2 separate regions of the Homo sapiens genome follow, and region 1 is linked to region 2. A link means that fine-mapping ties the variant in region 2 to the expression of a gene that starts in the linked region. Tissue or cell type: whole blood. Region 2 holds a variant in brackets; the other region holds the start of a gene. All regions are shown on one strand. Distances are from middle to middle.

The links. PIP is the estimated chance that this variant, and not a neighbour inherited with it, causes the effect.
Region 1: CEP41 starts here. The variant in region 2 is fine-mapped to the expression of CEP41 in whole blood (INTERVAL, PIP above 0.99). The same link has a PIP of 0.9 or more in blood mononuclear cells.

Annotation. Positions count from the first base shown.
Region 1 is chr7:130,435,973-130,444,155 of GRCh38, reverse strand. CEP41 (centrosomal protein 41) reads left to right here and starts at 3,140. Exons shown (of 11, transcript NM_018718.3): 1 at 3,140-3,222. The coding sequence starts at 3,190. LOC105375505 (a long non-coding RNA gene) reads right to left here and starts at 2,402. Exons shown (of 3, transcript XR_927973.3): 1 at 1,468-2,402; 2 at 1,267-1,386; 3 at 930-1,053. RefSeq lists an enhancer at 2,700-3,454.
Region 2 is chr7:130,385,783-130,393,945 of GRCh38, reverse strand. CPA1 (carboxypeptidase A1) reads right to left here. Exons shown (of 10, transcript NM_001868.4): 9 at 8,023-8,107; 10 at 5,838-6,122. The coding sequence ends at 5,935. CEP41 (centrosomal protein 41) reads left to right here. Exons shown (of 11, transcript NM_018718.3): 11 at 1-175. Among named protein-coding and RNA genes, the nearest start is that of CPA1, 9.4 kb to the right of the region's middle. The variant T/A (reference allele first, on the strand shown) is at 4,280.

The sequences.
Region 1 (8,183 bases), 50 kb before region 2:
CTCCATGCAAATCAGGATTATATTAAATAAAAAGTTGTTTCTTGCTCTTTTCATCTACTGTATCAGGAACAGTTCTCCACTGCCTTAATTATGCCTTGAAACATACTTTTAAATGATTCCATAAGATTACTTTGTATAGATATGCCAGCATTTATTTTAATCATTTTTAAATTGATGATCAATTAGATTGTTTCAATTTTTATCATTTTAAATATACTTCCAGTAAACATCTATGGATGTAATGTCTGTACATTTGTCCAATTATTTCCTTAGGAGGAATTCTTAGCATATTAAGATTTGAGGACTTCTCAATACCTACTCTCAAATTATTCTTCAAAATGATCATGCTCCTTTATATTCGCACTAACAATATGTGATCATGTTGTTTCATGAATCATTAGCCAGCACTAAGCATTATTGTTAAAGAAAAAAACTTTTGTACATTTGATAGTTGAAAAATGGGATCTAGTTATCTTGCTCTGTATTTTTTTTTTTTTTTTTTTGAAACGGAGTCTCGCTCTGTCGTCCAGGCTGGAGTGCAGTGGTGTGATCTCGGCTCACTGCAAGCTCCGCCTCCTGGGTTCACGCCATTCTCCTGCCTCAGCCTCCCGGATAACTGGGACTACAGGCACCCGCCACCGCGCCTCGTTAATTTTTTGTATTTTTAGTAGAGACGGGGTTTCACCGTGTTAGCCAGGATGATCTCAATCTCCTGACCTCGTGATCCGCCAGCCTCCCAAAGTGCTGGGATTACAGGGGTGAGCCACCGCGCCCGGTGCTCTGTGTTTTTTTGATATGTTTATTGGATGTTTTTCTTTTATCAGTTATCATTTTGTACCATTTGCCTATTTTTTACAAATAGAGACACGGTCTCACTGTGTTGCCCAGGCTGGTCTTGAATTTTTGGCCTGAAGTTATCCTCCTGCCTTGGTCTCTCAAAGTGCTGGAATTACAGGCGTGAGCCATTGCCACCACCATTTGCCTATTTTTTCAAAGTAAGCACTTGGCGTTCGTTTTGATCCAGTTTTGGCATAGCAGGATCCAAAAGGAATCCTAAAGAGAAATACATGATGTTAAAAGTCTTTTGGTTTATAGCTTTAAGCTTTCCAAGGATTCCATTGAGGCCAAATGTGAAGGAAAGGGGTGACTCTTTTAAAGGAGAGTCTCCTTGGACCACAACACCCCCCGCTCCCCACCCGCCGGCCAGAATCAGAATTGAGGGATTGGGGAGGGAACATGTATTTAAATTACCCCACCCAGACACACAGACACACAGTCAGTTGGATCCAAGAACCAGCCGGGTTCTATAATCTCTCTATAATGCTTCCTGTGCAGTCCAAATGTGACAACCACGATGACTAGTGAGGCAAGTAAACCAGATGTTCTCTGGAACAAAAGAGAGACAACCGTACAAAGAAGTGAGCCAAAACACTGAAGAATGGAAGTTGAATGGACTGTTGGACCTACTTGTACTTTCTGCTGTTTTGGCTTTTTGACTGTTGTTCTTTAACTTGATTAATGCATTATCGCCCATCTACTCAGTTCCTCAAGTTAGAGAAACTATAGCCATCTTTGATGAATTTCTATTCCTTGCACCCCTTACCTCTTCTCATGTATACTATTGATTTTACCTACACGTCTTTAAATCTCTCCTTTTCTGTCTTTCTCACCACCTCTGAGTGTAGTCCCCTATCATCTCCCTCTCTCCTTTCCCGTTATTCTATCCATAATCTCTATGGTTACCCACAAGGTGCACCAGGTAAGCATACATTCTAAATACTAATGAATCTAGAAGTTTCTGCTTGCTATGCAAAAGCTTCTAGATTAACATTCTTCCCTCTGCCTCCTTCCAATTTTTTGCAGCCTTCAAACCCTTCCTTAGCAGAGGAGTGAGAGACTGAGAATTTTAGAGGGGTTAAAGAACTGGCAAAGATTATGGAAATTAAGACAAAACTTAATAAACATGAAAGAGTGACATGAAAAGTCCAAGAAGCAGCTGTGGCCAGAATTCAAAATTCTGGTCAAGCAGCACTGACTGGCAACATGATCCAAGGTGTAGCCCTAAGGTTGGGTTGCTGAAGTGCCTAAGAGAACAAGGGCATGTGAGGCCATGTTGTTGAATGGGTCATCTCACAGACCCTGAAGTAGCTCAAATGTGTGCTATTATTCACTAACAGACAACTGGCGAGTATGAACTGCTCAGAGTAACCTTTCTCCATTCCTGGAAAAACAACTTAGAGCAAAGGACAAAGGGTTACTGTGTTGTTCCTTTCATGTAAAAGGAAATAATAATTTTGATGGATTTGGTGGGACATTTAGGAGCCAAGTCAAACTGTGTGTGTAATTGTTTTGTAAAGGTGCTAGGACTTCATTTTCAGATCCGGAATGGGAACAGGTGGTGGCTGGTGGCAGGAGTCACAATGGTTTCCATGACGACGGGATTGGGTCCTAGTCATCCTCCCATTCTCCACAAGACCTACTGCAGCTTTTCTCATAAGGTGCTTATTAAGTATTTGTTAAATGAACGATGAACCACAGAATAGCGCGTGTGCTTTGCAATTAAGGATGTCGCTCTATAGCTAGCCTAAAAGCTTTTAAAGCACCGATAATTACTGTATTTACCCATGTATTTTGCATAATTCGCATATTAACTTAACCAGAAAATAATAAACCATACTCTCCCATTTCTGCTGAACAACCCTGGCCCATATAATATTCCCTGTTGTGGAATCAGTAGCCCAGATGTTTGGTTGAAACGGCCATAAAACGGAGCTGGGGGATGGGGAGTCTTGTGTTGTATTTATGGTTCCACATTAGCTAAAACTCGTGTTTTGTCCCGGCTCTCAAGCCACTGCCCCCGCCCCCGGCTTTGCGCAGGCGCCAGCCTTCCCCTCCCCCCGCGCCTCTCTTCCCGCCCTAAGGCTGGAGCCGGCGAGCCCCAGCCCAGAGAACAAAAGGCCTCGCTAGCCGGCGTCCCGCGTTGCCCTTGGCAACCATTGAGCGGCGTCTTGCCCTTCTGCGACCCTGAGATGAGAGAGTAAACGGGGCCCCCATTGGCCGGCCGGGGAAGACGGGCCAATCGGAGAAGAGGGTATAGGGAGGCGGCTGAACAAGGTTGTGGGGGTAGGAAGCTAGGGTTAGAGGCAACCCGTGAGGCTAGAACCCCGAACGTGGTCGGTTGGAGAAAATATGTCCCTCCGGAGGCACATTGGGAACCCTGAGGTGAGGGCCAGGTCTCGGCCGGAGAGCCGGAGGGGGCGGGCGCACCGGAAAAGGCTCATGTGGGCAGGGAAGAGCAGCCAGCGACTTCCGCCGCCCGGAAGGCGGGAAGGGGCCGGCGTGAGGAGGGGTCGGGATGCAGGGGCGGGGCGGGCCGGGCTTGGGGGCCGCGGGGCAGCGTTCAGGACCCCGTTTTGAGGAGCGATCTCTCCCCGCGTACGCACGCCAGTACTTGTGACTGCGAGGAGCGAAGTACCCAAAGACACAGCCCTTGCCCTCAAATGGCTTACAGTCTCGGAGTGACAGTTACAAAACAGAAAAGACAAAGGAAGCGCTGCACACTAATGGCACGTGTTGAAAGCCAGCCAGCATCTCTGATTGTGGGGATACAGGAAGAGCAGGAGTAAGCTGACCAAACCTTTGGAAAACGGGCAAAATAGGACATTAGGCTTACCCCTCTCTCCATAGGACCCTTCAGTTTCTTCATCTGTTTCACCGCTAGTCCCCTGCTGCATTTGTGGCAGTTTCAACAAACGTTATTGGAAACTTCCACGGTGCAGTAGGTGCTAGACGTACAAAGAAGACAAGGCCTCTGCCCTTTAATAAATTGCGTATAGTGGACCAGGCGCGGTGGCTCAGCCTGTAATCCCAGCACTTTGGGAGGCCGAGGCGGGCGGATCACGAAGTCAGAAGTTTGAGACCAGCCTGGCCAACATGGCGAAACCCCGTCTCTACTAAAAATACAAAAATTAGCCGGGCGTGGTGGTGAGGCGCCTGTAATCCCAGCTACTCGGTAGGCTGAGGCAGGAGAATCGCTTGAACCCAGGAGATGGAGGTTCCAGTGAGCCGAGATCGTGCCATTGCACTCCAGCCTGGGTGATAAGAGCGACTCTGTCTCAAAAAAATAAAAATAAACAATAAATAAATTGCGTCTAGTGAAGGAGCCTGTGAACAGAATTTGAGTACAGTGTGGTCGGGGAGCAAGATGTTACGAGAAAATAGGTAGTACTCAACTGAGGGAGTGAGAGAAGGGTTGTGGAGATGGAAGGGGTGGCAAGGCCATTCATTAGCCAGGTGAAGCATCATCCCGGGTAGAACAGCCCAAGTGAAGGTAAGGAGTGTGTGAACTCAGAACAGGCCCCTGTAGGAGTCCAGGCTTTCTCTGCCTTGCTGAGGTTCTTAGCCTTTATCCCAAATAGGAGTTGTAACTGTTTCATCTCTTGGTGGCTGCCTGGTACTAGGCTGAGAAAGCTGTAAGGCTGAGTCTAAGCCCTGCAAGAGAGCCATGGTCAATTGGTAATGTCTAAATGCTGCATGATCTCACTTATACGTGGCATCTTAAAAAGTCCAGCTCATAGAAGTAGAGAATAAAATGGTGGTTACCAGAGCCTGGAGGGTGGGGGGAAGGAGGGCAGAAATGGGAAGATGTTGATCCAAGGGCACAAAGTTACAGTTAAACAGGAGGAATGGTTTTTGAGATCTCTGGCACAGCATGGTGACTATAGTTAATAATAATTACAGCAGACTCATAACCCCCAGTAGAAAATCCATGTACAACTTTTTACTCCCCTCCCCCCTGCAAAAAAACTTAACTACTAATAGCCTACTATTGACTGGAAGGCTTCCTGATAACAGAAACACTTGATTAACATATTTTGTATCTCATATGTATTATGTACTGAATTCTTAAAGTAAGCTGGAGGAAAGATTATTATTAAGAAAATCATAAGGAAGAGAAAATATATTTACTATTCATTAAGTGGCAGTGTATCATCATAAACATCTTCATCCTAATTGTCTTCATTGCTAAGGGGCAAGGAAAAGGAGGGGTTGGTCTTGCTGCCTTAGGGGTGACAGAGGCAGAAGAAAATCTGGGTATAAGTGGATCTGCACAGTTCAAGCCCATGTTGTCCAAAGTTCAACTATATTGTAGATTTCAAAATAGAGTAAATTGTATATTTTATGAGAGTAAATTTCAAATATCTCACCTCAAAAAAAAGATAAGTGGGTTGATGGATATGTTAATTTGATTTAATCATTCCACATTGTGTGTGTGTGTATATACCAAAACATCAAATTGTACCCCATAAATGTATAAAGTTATGATTTGTCTATCAAAATATTAATAAAAATGTTAATATTGTGTATCATGGGGGTGGGAGAGATAGGTGAGGAGAATGGCAGTTTGCCACATATTTATCTTGTCTGCTGGTCAGGATTTGAGAAATTTTTTGAGTTATTAAAGGAGTGACATGGTCAGATTTGCATTTTAGGCAGATGGCTGTAGCTACATTGTGGAAGATGGGTTTGAGGAGGCTCCAGGACTGGAAATGAGATTGGTTAAGTGGTTACTATTTTTTATTTATTTATTTATTTTTGAGACAGAGTCTCACTCTGTCACCCAGGCTGGAGTGCAGTGGGGAGATTTCAGCTCACTGCAACCTCCACCTCCCGGGCTCAAGCAATTATCCAGCCTCAGCTTCCTGGGTAGCTGAGACTATGGCGCACACCAACAAAGCCTGGCTGGTTTTTGTGGATTTTGTAAAGATGCGGTTTTACCATGTTGCCCAGTCTGGTCTCAAACTTTTGAGCTCAAAGCCACCCGCCTGCCTTGGCCTCCCAAAGTGCTGGTATTACAGGCATGAGCCACCGCGCCCTGCCAATAGTTACTATTTTGATAGAGATCTAAACTAAGGCCATTGAACTAGGGATGGAATCGAGGATAAATATTTACGGGGGCAAAATCATCAATACTTCCTGATTAGCTTTGAGAGATGCGTGATGGGTGACTTAAGTCTCAGCTTAGACTACTCATTGGTGCTGGCGCCATGAGTGAGATCAAGAATATGGGAGAACGAAAAGGAGGAATAGTTTTAGGAGTGTGGGGGAAGAGGAGCAAGTATGTTCCGTGTGGTTATGTTTGTGCCCGAGACAAAGATGCCCAGTTTACTCTCTTGTTTGAATAGAGCACAACTTCTAGTAGTTTCTTAAGAAAGAATTCATAAGAAATAGTTTTAAAAATTTATGTCTAAAATGTTAGGCATGTCTAAAAATATTCTTATTCTACCTTAACATTTATTTGCCAGTGAGTTTGGCTGAGTATAGAATTATTGGTTGAAAATCATCAACATCTTTTTTTTTCTTTTTCTTTTTTTTTTTTTTTTTTTTTTTTGAGACAGTCTTGCTTTGTCACCCAGGCTGGAGTGCAGTGGTACAAACATGGCTCACTATATCCTTGACCTCCTGGGCTCAAATGATTCTCCCACTTCCTGAGTAGCTGGGACCACAGGTGTGTGTCATCGTGCCCAGCTCATTTTTTTGTATTTTTTATAGAGATGGGGTCTCCCTATGTTGCCCAAGAGGGTCTTGAACTCCTGGGCTCAAGCAATCCTGCCTTGGGCTCCCAAAGTGCTAGGATTACAGGTGTGAGCCACCACACCTGGCCATCATCAGCATCTTGCAAAACATTGCTTAGTGGTCTAGTGTCTTGTGTTGTTGTGAAGTCCAAAGCCATTCTCTTGCTTTGTGACTGAATTTTCCTCTCAGGAAGCTTGTGGAACCTTTTTTTTTTGTCCCCAGTGTGACTTTACAAAGATATTTATATTTTCACTCATTTTGATAGGCACCAGAAATTTATGTCTTTTTAGTCTGAAAATTTTCTTAACTTTCTCTCTCCTATTTTCTCCATCCTCTTTTTCTTGAATTCATTATTCTGATGTTCTGTATTCATATAGATAACCTATATGACTGGTTCTCTGATTTTCGTAACTTTCATCTCCTGTTTCCCTCATCTTTGTCTTTCTGCTCCCTTTGGGAGATTTAATTTTTATCTTCCAATCCTTCATTTTAGTTTTTAATTTCTGCCATCATGTTTTTAATTTGTTTGTTTGTTTGTTTTGAGATAAACTCTCACTCTGTTGCCCAGGCTGGAGTGCAGTGGTGCGATTTCGGCTCACTACAACCTCCGCCTCCCAGGTTCAAGCGATTCTCCTGCCTCAGCTTCCCAAGTAGCTGGGATTACAGGCACCTGCCACCACGCCCAGCTAATTTTTTTGTATTTTTAGTAGAGACGGGGTTTTACCATGTTGGTCAGGCTGGTCTTGAACTCCTGACTTCAAGCCATCCACCTGCTGCCTTGGCCTTCCAAAGTGATGGGATTACAGGTGTGAGCCACTGTGCCCAGCCCATGTTTTTAATTTTTAAGAGCTCTGTTTTTTGCTCTGTTGTACTTTTAAAAAACGTTTTATTTCAAAATAAGTATAGATTCACAGGAAGTTGCAAAAAAAAAAAAAATAGTACAAAGAAGTCCTATGTATCCTTCACCCATTTTCCCCAATGATTATATTTTACATGAGTACAGTACAGTATCAAACTAGAAAATAGAAATTTGCACAATGTATGTATAGTTCTAGGCCATTTTATCACTTGTATAGATTTAATCAAGATTTACATATATGTAGATTTGCAATCAAGATAAAGAACTATTGCATCACTAGAAATATCTCCAAGCTACTCTTCTGGTCACACCTACTTTCTTCCCTCTCATCATCCTAACCCTGGGTAACCATCTCCATAATTTTGTCATTTTGACAATTTTACATAAATGGAATCATACAGTATGTGACCTTTTGAGATTGGCTTTTTTTTTTTTCACTCAAGATAATGTCCTTGAGTCGCATACAAGTTGTTGCATGTAGCAGTAGTTCATTCTTTCTGGTACCTGATCAGTATTCTGTGGTATGAATGTACAGCAGTTTTTTTGTTTTGTTTTGTTTTGTTTTTTGAGACGGAGTCTCACTCTATCACCCAGGCTGGAGTGCAGCGGCACCATCTCAGCTCACTGCAACCTCTGCTGCCTGGGTTCAAGTGATTCTCCTGCCTCAGCCTCCTGAGTAGCTGGGATTACAGCTTCCTACCACTGTGCCCGGCCAATTTTTTGTATTTTTAGTAGAGACAACATTTCA
Region 2 (8,163 bases):
TCTTGAAGACAGGTGCTCCAGGGCTTCCGAGGTTATTTTGTCTGTTAATGGACACCTTGCAAAGTACCACTTAAGGAATGAGAATTACAAACTTTTAATTATATTGTAGGGGGAAAAAAGTAGGCTGTTTTCCTGATAGGTCTAGCCATTCATTCAGTAAACCATATTGATATGATTTGTGCCTGATCTTTTCTTTCCTTTGTGGTGATGTTTCTGATTTCGGCTGAAACATAAGTTGCATGAATTGGCGATGGCCATAGGCCTGAGTTCCCGGGGGAAGCAGAGGCAAACCTCCTTGCCCCAGTCCTTGTCAGCAGAGCCCTTATTCTACTGCACTCTTCTAAAAATGTAGCCAATACCACTACTGTGGTTAAGCAGAAGACTTTCCATTTTCTCCTTTTAGTTTGGCAATAAACATTTGGCAATCCCAGTCTCTGAGGTTGTTGGATGATGCTCAGTGTTTGAGTTGCCAAATTAATGCAGATCCTGAAAGCTTTGGGGAATAATTCATTACCCTTTGACAGTTTTTTAGATTTGACGATGCATGCTCTGTGCTTTTCTGAGAGCTTCTCCTTGATTTGGCCAATTTGAATGTTACGGTTAGTCATATCAGCTTCATCTGAGTAGCATCTGGGTCTTAGTGTGTTCACAGAATGATGTTGCTGTAGTCCTTAAAGCAAGAGTCCCTGTGCATCTTCAAATCCACCTCATCCCACTCGCCCTTGCAAAACAATTGCCAGGGTGATGAATCGCCCCGCACTGGATGAAGGACCAGTGAGGTCATATCTGGATTGTATTCAATGACATTCCCATTTTAACTTTAGGCCAAAGACAGAAAGCTAGCTGTGCATATCTGAGTGTTAATTCAAGAGGCTACCCTAAGGATTCTCATAGATCACCAATATTGGGCCCACAGGCCATTAGAGAACCATATGTAATGGTCTGAGTAAAAAGTAAAATGAGTTCATTTGAAAATAAAGATTTTCAAAGGCCCTGGGGAATAGGCATTAGCATAATCAATTCCCAAGATAGCTACAAGAACTGAATGTGAGCAGGAAGGGGTTTTGGGAATTTTCATCAAGCTACAACAAGGGGTAGGATGGGGAATGGCCCCCAACTGCATGAGCTGAGTAATCTCTTCCTTTGGTAGAAACACTGCTGCTTCCAGCTGTATCTTGGAGTGTGAATTTTTCTGAAGATAAGACAAACTGCAGCGTTCCGGGCAAGATGATGAAACATTATACCGGAGCAGAAAAAAATGAGTTTAGACAAATCAAAAGAATCTGAGTAAAAACTAAGATGGCCATTTAGCTGTTTGATGTTGATAATACACCGATGTTAGGTAACTTTACACACATGTTATCTACTGTGTTCGAAATAGCTCCCTTCACTCCCTGCCCGTTATAAAAGCTGATTATAGAAGCTCATTGCGAGAAATGCTGAGAAGCATAAAAAGGAAAACTACCACCACCACTACCCAGGTTAATCATTATTATTATTGGGGGATATATCCTTCCAGGAAGAGAAAGAGAAGGAGAGAGAGAAAGCATGTTTGTGTGTGTGTGTGTGTGTGTGTGTGTGTGTGTGTGTGTGTGTGTCTTTTAAACAAGATGGGATCCAGACTCAATATTTTGTATCCAGCTTCTTTTTTAAAACAACTGTATTGTATAAATCACATACCATAAAATTCACCCATTTTAAGTGCACAACTCAATGATTTTGAGTTAAGTTTACAGAATTGTGCAACCATCACCACAATCCAGTTTTATAACATTTCCATCTTATAGCCAGTTTCTTTCACTTAGTATGTTGTGAACATTTTTCCATGTCAACACAGCCCTTAATGGTGTCGTGTTGTTCCAGTGTGTGGATGTGTCAGATCAGCATCAAGACTGGTAATTATCTAGGTTTTTTGTTTTTTACTTTTCCAATCTTGTACATACATATTTTTGAATCCATCCAAATATTTTTATAAAGTAAATTCTTCCATGTGGGTTTTCTGGATCAAAGACACAATACATTTATAATTTTGATTTATATTGCCAAATTTGCCCTCTGGGAAGGTGGTGCCAGTTTCTGCTCCACCAGCACTACATGTTAACACTGGAGTCATCAGTCTTTTTATTCTTTGCCAATCTGATGAGAGAAAAATATCTTCATTTCTCCTTAATGAACAAGAAATCACTTAGAGGATCAGTGTCTTTCATACATGTATTGATTTGTGTTTCTTCTTAGTGGAATTGCCTATTTTTCTTTTGAAATGTTTGTCTTTTTCTTTAACCCTTTTTATTATTTTAACCCCTCAAGGTTATTAATACTTATTTTCATATCAATACTTTCATTTTTAAGTTGCAATATTTTCCAAAATTGTCTTTTAGGTTATTAATACTTATTTTCATATCAATACTTTCATTTTTAAGTTGCAATATTTTCCAAAATTGTCTTTTAGGTTATTAATACTTATTTTCATATCAATACTTTCATTTTTAAGTTGCAATATTTTCCAAAATTGTCTTTTAGCTTTATGTTTTTACTTAAGAATTTTAAGTGTCTTCACCCATAGATTTGTAAAAATGTGTATCTACAAACAAAATGTAAATCTCTTCCCATACTTGAAAGTACAAAAAAAAAAAAAACCAACAACTTTCTTGTCTCCATTTAACAAGCATTTATTATTTTTTAATATATTTCTTTCTTTTTTTTTTTTTTTTTTTTTGAGACAGAGTCTCCCTCTGTCACCCAGGCTGGAGTGCAGTGGCACAATCTTGGCTCACTGCAACCTCCACCTCCTGGTTTCAAGCAATTCTCATGCCTCAGCCTCCCGAGTAGCTGGGATTACAGGCATGCACCACTGCCCAGCTAATTTCTGTATTTTTAGTAGAGATGGGGTTTTGCCGTATTGGCCAGGCTAATCTCAAATTCCTGACTTCAAGCAATCTGCCCACCTCAACCTCCCAAAGTGCTGGGATTACAGGCATGAGCCACCACACCCAGCCTAAAATTGTTTTTTTTATAGAGACTGGGTCTCGCTGTGTTGCCCAGGCTGGTCTTGAAATCCTGAGCTCAAGCAATCCTCCCACCTCAGCCTCCCAGAGTATTGATATTACAGGTATGAGCCACTGCACCTGGCCAAGCATTTATTATTATTGATATTAATACCAATATTATTACTGTGTGCTGTGCACTTGGCCAAGCAGTGGGGGTTAAATGGTGAACAAAACAAAGCAATCCTTGCCCTTGTGCAATTGACATTCATTCATTGACTTCAGCTTTCTTAAGACTTACTCAACTCTGGGAATTCAAAATAACTTGCACAGGGTGTTTTCAGCAAGCCTACAACATACAGATCATAACATTTATGAATTCACTAATAAAAGTAGAGAGCATTCACTCAACAGGTATTTATTAGGCATCTATGTGTCAGGTACTGTTAACGCTATTGGGGATTGAATGCCAAACAAGGTGGTTCCTGCTGTCGGGAAGCACAGTTTATTTTAAATTAAGCAATTCTACCATCAAAGTCTAGTGCTCCAGTTTTATAAAGTGATAAATTGTCATGCTAACTTAATATTTCTTCTCTTATCAGTCTTCATTAAACAAAAGGTGATCAGCTTCCTACTCACTCAAACTAAGCAGTTAAAATGGGTTTTGAGAAGAGAGTTATAATGTCGTTATATAGATTGAAGGGAAGCATTTTCTAAAAGATAACTTGAAGAGGGTGTTATCAAATCTTTTAGGTCATCTTTCTGTAAAGACTGAAACACCATTTTACCTCGTCTCATAAATTTACATGTTTATACGTTTATGTAAATGATATAATGTAATAATGTAACAAATACATACAAAATGTAACAATACATACATAGAGCCTCATCCTTTTTTTTTCTTTTAAGAGACAGGGTCTCACTTTGTTGTCCAGGTTGGAGTGCAGTGGTGCCATCATGGCTCACTGCAACTGCAAACTTCTGGGCTCAACGGTTCTTCCCACCTCAGCCTCTCGATTAGCTGGGATTACAGGTGCATGCCACCACACCCAGCTAATTTTTTATTTTTTGTGGAGGTGGGGGGGGGGGGTCTCGCTATGTTGCCCAGGCTGGTCTCGAACTCCTGGGGTCAAGGAATCCTCCTGCTTCAGCCTCCCAAAATGCTGGGATTACAGGTGTGAGCCACTGTGCCCAGCCCTCATTCTTTTTATTTTTATTTTTAGAATGTTGATAGCAAAAATAATAATAAAATAAAAGTCCAAGATGAAAATTCCATCAATGTTCCTCTTTTTTTT[T/A]AAAAAAGGCATTTTTGGCCTTCAGGCCATTTTATATGGAAAAGACTCAAGTCAACAGAGCTGGATGCTTCTTGAAACCTGGCCTGGCTGCTAGAGAGAGAAGCTGCCATCCTCACTCCAGCCCCAATCCACTCACTTCCCCAGCAGAGTCTGTGGGAAAACCCCCTGCTCCACATTCACACCTGAAGTGATATGGAAGAAACAAAGGGAGATTCTTTTTTCTTTCTTTCTTTCTTTTTTTTTTTTTTTTTTTTTTTTTTGAGATGGACAACAAATTTCATGTCTCCATTTCACAAGCATTTATTATTTTTAAATATATTTTAATTTTTTTTTGAGATGGAGTCTCCCTCTGTCACCCAGGCTACACTACAGTGGTGCAATCTCAGCTCACTGCAACCTCCACCTCCTGAATTCAAGGGATTCTCCTGCCTCAGTCTCCTGAGTAGTTGGGATTACAGGCATGCGCCCCCATGACCGGCTAATTTTTTGTATTTTTAGTAGAGATGGGGTTTCACCATGTTGGCCAGGCTGGTCTTGGACTCCTGACTTCATGATCTGCCCACCTCAGCCTCCCAAAGTGCTGGGATTACAGGCGTGAGCCACTGTGGCCAGGCCAAAAGGGAGATTCTTGCTTTGAAACAAGTTGGGATATCTTATGTAGTCATGCTAGCTGCTAATTGTAATATCACTTGCATCAGGATCACCAAGCTGAAGAAGGGAAGCTAAAGCCTAGGAGCTGTGGTCTCAACAGGAGAATGGGAAGGAGTGGGGTGGATGGAAACACGAGGGAGCAGAACCATGTACCAAAGACGCTGGGAAGGATGTGGCAAATGAAAAGTGGGTGATTTCTATCCCTAAAGGCAAAATCTTCAGAATATATAATTAATTTATACAGTTAATAAAATATCTTGGCCAAATGTGATGGCTCACACCTGTAATCCCAGGACTTTGGGAGGCCAAAGCAGGAGGATTGCTTGAGCCCAGGAGTTCAAGACCAGCCTGGGCAATATGGCAAAACCCCATCTCTACCAAAAAAAATTAAAAATTAAAAATGTCTTGGGATTGGCCTTTGGATTGGTTCTTTATCTGCAGTTAATGATTTTATTTAACCCAATTGTTTTCTTCCAATTTGATTCCGGAATGGAAGATGATATTTTGCTCTTTAGTAATCTGTTTTACTTGGCTGCAACATCTATTTTGGACAGCAGTGGCCACCTGGATTATTATATTTCATCTTCTAGGTTGTTGCTTTTATAGATGAATGGACACAGCTAGCTAGACCTTTGTACACGCCGAATTCCACACCACTGTGGGGTGCCGGGCATTTGGTTAGCAGCTGTTGCTGCTGCTTGCTACTAAGGTATGAACAAATCATCCCACTGGTGAGCTGAACTCAGGGTGGTCTAATTAAAACAGACGCCACTTGGATACGACTTCACAGGATGTTGGAATGCAGGGGAATGTAGGGGTCATCTAGTCCAACCACCCACACATTTCCAGTGAGGCCTGCAGGAATTAAATCACTTTTGCCCCAGCTTGAAGAGGCAGACACTCCACATGCAAGCCCCAGGATTCTGTTCCTGGTACACTCAAACTTTATTTGGTTGCCTGGATGGGGCCAGAGAGGAGGACAAGAAGGGTGTCAAAGGGTCAGCTCAGTAGGGGTGATTCAGGGTGTGCTCCATGATGGTCAGAAGCGCCAGCCACGTCTCCTTGGCTGTGGGGATGATCTGGGAGGCTGGCAGCAGGAAGCCATAGCGCCCAGTGTCCCGGAGCTCGAAGGTGAAGGAGTACTTGATGCCCTGGCTGTAGGTCCAGTCAATAGTGCTTCCACTGGCTTGATCTGGGGCAGGAGTAAAATAGGAGAGAAAGGGTCAATCACTTTGGGAATATTTACACGGGTTGGGTTAACGATCCAACCCTGTCCAAAGCTCTGTGCCTTGTGCAATGCTGAGTGGAGTCAGTGTCTACTAAGGTCTGCTGTTGACCAAGCAGCCTCACTTCCAAGAAACTCCCACTAAAAGGTCTAAGCCAAGAGGTCCAAAGAGGAGACCAGCAATGGTTCCCCTATTCACTAGGGGATGCAAGGAAGTCTCTGCAATTGCACAAGCCCCTCTGAAAACAGCCTCTGTCCAACAGCCCTTTCGGTGAAGCCCCTAAATATACCGAGTTCCCTGCTTGGGTAACCAGGATTTGTTCCCCTGGGGCTCTGGTCTGTGAGGGGGAAAGTGCAAAGAGCCAGAGTCAAAGCAAAAGCCCCTTGTCTTTCTTTTAGGAGGAAACTTTGCCCGGGAAACTGTAATTAACAGTGGGTAATGAAGCCACTTTTGAATTGGCCCAGGAGAGAGCAGTAGGCTGCATATCAGAATTTAACTTGACCATGTTGAATGAAGCAAAACCTTGACTCAGAGTTGAATCAGTTTCCAAAGAAGGCCTGGAGTCCAAAAGTGAGGTCAACCTTGGATAAGATTGTGACCTGCTTGCCCACCAAGGCCTAGGCACTCAGGCAGGAAGCGTGTGAGGTGTGTACGCAGCCCTGCCCCCTCAGCCTTCTACCCAGCTTTGACCTTCACTTACTTGGAGGCAGCCACACCAGTCTTGTTGTTCCAGCAACATCCCCGGCCAGACCACACTGTAGAGCCTTTGCTCTAGAATGTTCCTCTGCCTGGAAGGCTCTTCCTAGCTGGATAGCCTCCTGGCTGCCACCTCCTCCACCCACTTCCTTCAATAGTTGCCCAAATGTCACTCTGTCAATGAGGCCCACCCTTCAACCCACCTGCCCCACCTCCACCCCCAGTGTTCCCGATTCACCTCACCTGGTCTAGTTTTAGTTTTCCTCCCCAGCATTCGTCACCTCACATACTGTATCATTTACTTATTTATGTTCATTGTTGGTCTCCCTGGCTAGAAAGTTCCCTGATCTTTGCTTATTTCATTCATGGCTATATCCCAAGTACATGAAACAGGGCCTGGTGTATAGTAGGTGTTCAATAAACATTTGTTGAGTTAATTCCATTTTGATTCAGTAATGCTCCTCTCAGGGGCACTGCATGAATAAGTAAGTGAGGAATAAATCAGGCCTATTGTCTAATTGAGGGGCACTGGAGGAGAAGTGGTTTTTGTTTTTGTTTTTTTGACATGGAGTCTCGCTGTGTCGCCCAGGCTGGAGTACAGTGGCGTGCTCTTGGCTCACTGCAACCTCCACCTCCCGGGTTCAAGCGATTCTTGTGCCTCAGCCTCCCGAGTAGCTGGGACTACAGGCGCACACCACCACACCCAGCTAATTTTTTGTATTTTTAATAAAGACGGGGTTTCACCATGTTAGCCAGGATGGTCTCTATCTCCTGACCTCGTGATCCGCCCACCTCAGCCTCCCAAAGTGCTGGGATTACAAGCATGAGCCACGGTGCCCTGCCCCCGAGAAGTGTTTTTTTAAGTTGAATTTCCTGGTGATCTGCAAATCCCAGCAGGACTCTCCACCCCATCCAACCAAGAAACTAGACTTGGCCCCAACACAAGAGGACAAGAGCTGTCAGAGGAATTCACATTTGTCTGAAAGTATCAAAGGAAGCAGAGTTCATGTCAGGAAAAGGGACTGCCCACCCCTCAGAATAGCCCTTGCCAGCAGTTGACAGATCTGGGTGCCCTTGGCTACTTCCTTCCATGAGGGATACTCCCTCGGTCAGGAAGAGCCAGCAGATGTTCCTCGCAGGCCCATCAAGAGAGACCCTACGGCCACTTACAAATTGCCTTGATGATGCTGCCATAGTTGAACTTGGTCCCGTAGAGAGAGGCCAGGGCTGTCACAGCAGCCTTGGAAAGCTGATCCTGGACAAAACACCAAGCAAAGCCACCTGTCATGGCCAGGCTCCTGGAACAGCATG